Linked DNA regions of Homo sapiens. The protein of the gene in region 1 interacts with the protein of each later gene in a biochemical or structural test. Each region holds a gene or a part of one and is shown in the gene's direction. Other genes may lie near its edges.

Region 1 (3,855 bases):
GAGCGTGACTGGGGGCTACATGCATCAGCTGACAGGACAGAAAGTTTCGCAGGGCTTCCTCATACGATGTCTGGAATTTACAGATAACACAAGTAGTTTAGGTCAGGGGTTAATATTATTATTATTTTTTTAACCACCAGGGCCAGGTGGTGGTGCCAGGGTCGTCTGGCTATTTATCTTACTTCTGTTTCTTTCCAACTTTTTGCTTTCTCCCTTTTCGCCTGTCTTATAAACTAGGCAAAAGTGGGAGAGAGGAGGGCAGCAGGAGAAGTGGTGGTCTCCTTCCTTAATGGTATAGGGTGAATATTTTATCTTGTACTTTTCATGGTTTTAGAGACTGTACTTTACATGTTTCTAAAGATTAAGCATTTCTACTCATTAAGTTGAAGAATCTTTAGAAGTCCTCTCACTGAGGTTTTTTTCCAGAATTACTGGATTATTTCTTTCATACCTATCATTTTTCTTAAAATGTAATACACTTGTAGATAATAAGAGGAAATAAAAGATGACTGATAAAGGGCTTGCAGTCTGTTTTGTAAATTTTAAAAATATTAGTGGTATCCTTCAAGCAGATTTAGCATTTCTTCCAATTCTACACTAAGAGTAGCCTAGAGTTAACCATGGCCTTTTTTTTTTTTTTTTTAAGTGTTCAAAAGGATTTTGATGACAACTCTAAGGTACCTTCCAGGGCTTATTTTTAGGAAATAAAAAATAAAACGATAGTATAAATATATGCTACCTAAACTTCCCCTCACATACTTTTTTCTAGGTTATTTTTTTTTAAAATCTTCAAACATTTTCATTTCCAAATATTGCTGCTGTTTAGCCAGAGAAGAACTTATACAACTAGCTTTCAGTTGTCTGCTGAGTGTCCAGGGATTAACATAAGAGACTAATTTCAGCACATAACCTATTTAACTAGTCATTTCATTCAGGCAGTGGTCCCAACCTGATGCACATTAGACTTACCTAGAGAACTTGAAAAATAGTGGTGCCTAGGTTCCATCCTCAGAGATTCTGATGTAATGGTCTAGAATAGAATTTGGGCAGCCTCTCAGGTGATCATCATGAGGAGACAGGCTTGACACCTGTAGTATTCATGTGAGAACTAGCTGAGTTTGGGGTTGGGTTGCATATGGTGAAAGGGAATGAACTTAAGTCATTTCCTTCTCTTCCCTATTTACAATGAAACAACCTAAGAGAAGGGGAAAATCAAAGATCACTGAGAATCTGCAAAGGTTAGAAAATGAAGTAGCTTTTTTCTTTTTGTCATTGTAGACATGGAAGGTCTTTAATGTAACTTTAAATGGTTCACCAAAGGATGCTCTAATGGATGACAGCGATACTCCTACATATTATCTGCAAATAGAACCACAAGATGGATGTCATCCTGGTGACAGCGTGGAAAGGAGTGTGACCTGTCTGCCTTCTGCATCAGATGAAAATGAAAATCAGCTTGACGGGGACGGGCATGAGCATCTGACCAGCAGTGACAGTGCGATGGGAAAGCCCCAAGTGTCTGAGCAGGACAGTCTCAATAATAATGAAAGCTGCACATTGAGCTGCGAGGTGGCTGCAGGTGAGAACTTGCAAAACACCCTTTGTGAAGCCTCCAGAGATGAACAGGCCTTCTTGGGAAAGGACAAAAAAATTCCTGGAAAAAGAAGTCCAAGAAGCAAAAAAGGGACTGCTAAGAAGATACCACCAGGTATTGTTTAAAATAGTATTTATCCTCTTCTTTAATTAATTAAAAATGAACCTCCTTCCCTCCCATACTGTGTTTACTGTCCTGCACCTTGCTTCTTTGCTTACGATATTCTGGAGCTAGTTCCGCCGCAGCACAAGTAGATCCAACTGCATGATATTCCAGTGTGATACGTCTCCACACTGTTCCACCGTATGGGTGTAACACAATTTATTTAATCACTTCCTTATGGCCCTTCCCAGTCTTTTACTATCATAAACAGTGCTGAGGCCGGGTACGGTGGCTCACGCCTGTAATTAGCACTTTGGGAGGCCGAGGTGGGCGGATTACCTGAGGTCGGGAGTTCAAGACCAGCCTGGCCAACATGGTGAAACGCCATCTCTACTAAAAATACAAAAAATGAGCTGGGTGCAGTGGCGTGTACCTGTAATCCCAGCTACTCTGGAGGCTGAGGCAGGAGAATCGCTTGAACCTGGGAGGCGGAGGTTGCAGTAAGCCAAGATCACGCCACTGTACTCTAGCCTGGCTACAGAGTGAGACTTCGTCTCAAAAAAAAAGAAAAGAAAAAGTGCTGAAATTGACATCCTTTGTACATGTTTTCACATTAGGTACTTTAAATATATGCAGCCTCCTCTCCCTCCTTTATAAATTAGACCATTTTCTACCAATATCAACCTTAAAAATTGCCTTCTGTCATTCCTGTGGCTTTGATCCCTAACCTGTGAGTTTAGATGCTACTGTGACCTCTTTATAGATCTTTCCATCTCACTCAGCAGGTAAATAAAATACAGGAACATATATTAATGTACAATTTAATATGTAGTGTTGAATAAGACATCTGGTTCTAATTATCTGTATCACTTTGGTTAAAAAGTAATTCAGAGTATTTCTTGTTTGGTATGCAGTTTGGCAGTTGAAGTTTAGAGCTATGGAATTTTTGGCCTGAATCACAGGGCCCCCTTGGGAAAAGGCAGCCTCTGGTTATTTTTTTTATCAGAAACATATGGGACTAGAAAGTTTTGGTATGCCCTAGACTGGATTCCTTAGTGTAGTACCACTTTTTACCCAAGCCAACAGATTTTACATCAGACTCTAGTGAACTAAGTAGAATGCCTCTTCATCTTCTGTTCTCTTCTTTGGTTAATTAGAAATATATCTGTCTATATCGTATTTTTTATTTGTATTTTTAAAATTTGAAGTAAAATACAAAACTTTTCAGTTTCTACAAAATCCATATTTATTCAATAAAGTAATTTGAAAACTTTTTAATATAATTCATAATCTGGCTTTCTGGTTAATGTAACTCATAATTTGGCTTTTCACGTCCCTGTATCTTTTTCTTAGTAGACTCAAAATAATTTTTAACCAGGGATATGAAAGCTTTTTTTTTTTTTCTTTTTTTTGAGGCGAGTCTCACTCTGTCACCCAGTATGGAGTGCAGTGGTGCAATCTCAGCTCACTGCAACCTCCGCCTCCTGGATTCAAGCAATTCTCCTTCCTCAGATGATTCTCCTGCCTCAGCCTCCTGAGTAGCTGGGATCACAGGTGTGCACCACCATGCCCAGCTAATTTTTTTTGTATTTTTAATAGAGACAAGGTTTCACCATGTTGGCCAGGCTGGTCTCAAACTCCTGACCTCGTGATCCGCCCACCTCTGCCTCCCAAAGTGCTGGGATTAAAGGCGTGAGCCACCGTGCCCAGCAAAAGCATTTCTTAAAAGATCTAATAAGCAGAGGATATTTACAGTACTATGTATATATAAATCAGTTTATTCTATAACTATCATTCAAGGGCAAATTCACCAGGCCTCTCAATCTGATTTTGTGATTTTATTTTATTTTCAAGACAGGGTTTCACTCTGTCACCCAGGCTGAAGTGCAGTGGCGTGACCATGGCTCTCTGCAGCCTTGATCTCCCAGGCACAAGCGATTCTCCCACCTCAGCCTCTGGAGTAGCTCGGACAACAGGCATGTGCTACCATGCCTGACTAATTTTTCTTTTCTTTTTATTTTTGTAGATAAAGAATCTCGCACTGTTGCCCAGGCTGATCTTGAATTTCTGGCCTCAAGCGATCCTCCTGCCTAGGCCTCCCAAAGTGTTGGGATTACAGGCATCTTGTGATGTCTTTAAGAACTGATACTTAGTTGCAT
Region 2 (2,291 bases), on another chromosome or scaffold:
TCAAGCAGAGCCAGCAGTCGTGCCAGCAGCAGACCTCGGCCTGATGACCTGGAGATCTAGATACAGGCTTGAAAGCATCAAGATTCCACTCAATTGTGGAGAAGAAAAAAGGTGCTGTAGAAAGTGCACCAGGTGTTAATTTTGATCCGGTGGAGGTGGTACTCAACAGCCTTATTCATGAGGCTTAGAAAACACAAAGACATTAGAATACCTAGGTTCACTGGGGGTGTATGGGGTAGATGGGTGGAGAGGGAGGGGATAAGAGAGGTGCATGTTGGTATTTAAAGTAGTGGATTCAAAGAACTTAGATTATAAATAAGAGTTCCATTAGGTGATACATAGATAAGGGCTTTTTCTCCCCGCAAACACCCCTAAGAATGGTTCTGTGTATGTGAATGAGCGGGTGGTAATTGTGGCTAAATATTTTTGTTTTACCAAGAAACTGAAATAATTCTGGCCAGGAATAAATACTTCCTGAACATCTTAGGTCTTTTCAACAAGAAAAAGACAGAGGATTGTCCTTAAGTCCCTGCTAAAACATTCCATTGTTAAAATTTGCACTTTGAAGGTAAGCTTTCTAGGCCTGACCCTCCAGGTGTCAATGGACTTGTGCTACTATATTTTTTTATTCTTGGTATCAGTTTAAAATTCAGACAAGGCCCACAGAATAAGATTTTCCATGCATTTGCAAATACGTATATTCTTTTTCCATCCACTTGCACAATATCATTACCATCACTTTTTCATCATTCCTCAGCTACTACTCACATTCATTTAATGGTTTCTGTAAACATTTTTAAGACAGTTGGGATGTCACTTAACATTTTTTTTTTGAGCTAAAGTCAGGGAATCAAGCCATGCTTAATATTTAACAATCACTTATATGTGTGTCGAAGAGTTTGTTTTGTTTGTCATGTATTGGTACAAGCAGATACAGTATAAACTCACAAACACAGATTTGAAAATAATGCACATATGGTGTTCAAATTTGAACCTTTCTCATGGATTTTTGTGGTGTGGGCCAATATGGTGTTTACATTATATAATTCCTGCTGTGGCAAGTAAAGCACACTTTTTTTTTCTCCTAAAATGTTTTTCCCTGTGTATCCTATTATGGATACTGGTTTTGTTAATTATGATTCTTTATTTTCTCTCCTTTTTTTAGGATATAGCAGTAATGCTATTACTGAAATGAATTTCCTTTTTCTGAAATGTAATCATTGATGCTTGAATGATAGAATTTTAGTACTGTAAACAGGCTTTAGTCATTAATGTGAGAGACTTAGAAAAAATGCTTAGAGTGGACTATTAAATGTGCCTAAATGAATTTTGCAGTAACTGGTATTCTTGGGTTTTCCTACTTAATACACAGTAATTCAGAACTTGTATTCTATTATGAGTTTAGCAGTCTTTTGGAGTGACCAGCAACTTTGATGTTTGCACTAAGATTTTATTTGGAATGCAAGAGAGGTTGAAAGAGGATTCAGTAGTACACATACAACTAATTTATTTGAACTATATGTTGAAGACATCTACCAGTTTCTCCAAATGCCTTTTTTAAAACTCATCACAGAAGATTGGTGAAAATGCTGAGTATGACACTTTTCTTCTTGCATGCATGTCAGCTACATAAACAGTTTTGTACAATGAAAATTACTAATTTGTTTGACATTCCATGTTAAACTACGGTCATGTTCAGCTTCATTGCATGTAATGTAGACCTAGTCCATCAGATCATGTGTTCTGGAGAGTGTTCTTTATTCAATAAAGTTTTAATTTAGTATAAACATAGCTTCTATATTCCGTGTGATTTGTTTCCCCTGCCGAGATGGAGTCTTGCTCTGTCACCCAGGCTGGAGTGCAGTGGCGCGATCTCGTCTCACTGCAACCCTTGCCTCCCGGGTTCAAGCAATTCTCCTGCCTCACCCTCCCGAATAGCTGGGATTACAGGCACCGCCACCGCACCTGGCTAATTTTTGTATTTTTAGTAGAGATGGGGTTTCACCATGTTGGCCAGGCTGGTCTGGAACTCCTGACCTCGTGATCCGCCCACCTCAGCCTCCCAAAGTGTTGGGATTACAGGGGTGAGCCACCGCACCTGGCCTATATTTAAAACTCATTGACGGCATCTATTTGAGATTATTTAAACACATTTCTATTGGTTATCAGAACTTCAGCAAATAACAGTCATGTTTTCAGGGACAATATTTATCATTAGCTCTGTTCAGTGCAACATAAATTGTAAACATTTTTGGATATTTATTGAACCAAAAGGAAGATAAAGTGTTGAA

What was found. Proteins that work in one complex are often made in the same cells at the same time.
Region 2: the proteins of CNST (region 1) and GJA1 form a complex in vitro, tested with the Homo sapiens proteins (one study listed by BioGRID).

Annotation. Positions count from the first base shown.
Region 1 is NC_000001.11:246,590,234-246,594,088, forward strand, and holds part of CNST (consortin), read left to right. Parts: intron 1-1,278; coding exon of another isoform or gene 1,279-1,329; coding exon 1,330-1,708; intron 1,709-3,855. UniProt on the Homo sapiens protein: Required for targeting of connexins to the plasma membrane.
Region 2 is NC_000006.12:121,447,937-121,450,227, forward strand, and holds the end of GJA1 (gap junction alpha-1 protein), read left to right. Parts: coding exon 1-60; 3' UTR 61-1,791; downstream 1,792-2,291. UniProt on the Homo sapiens protein: Gap junction protein that acts as a regulator of bladder capacity. A gap junction consists of a cluster of closely packed pairs of transmembrane channels, the connexons, through which materials of low MW diffuse from one cell to a neighboring cell.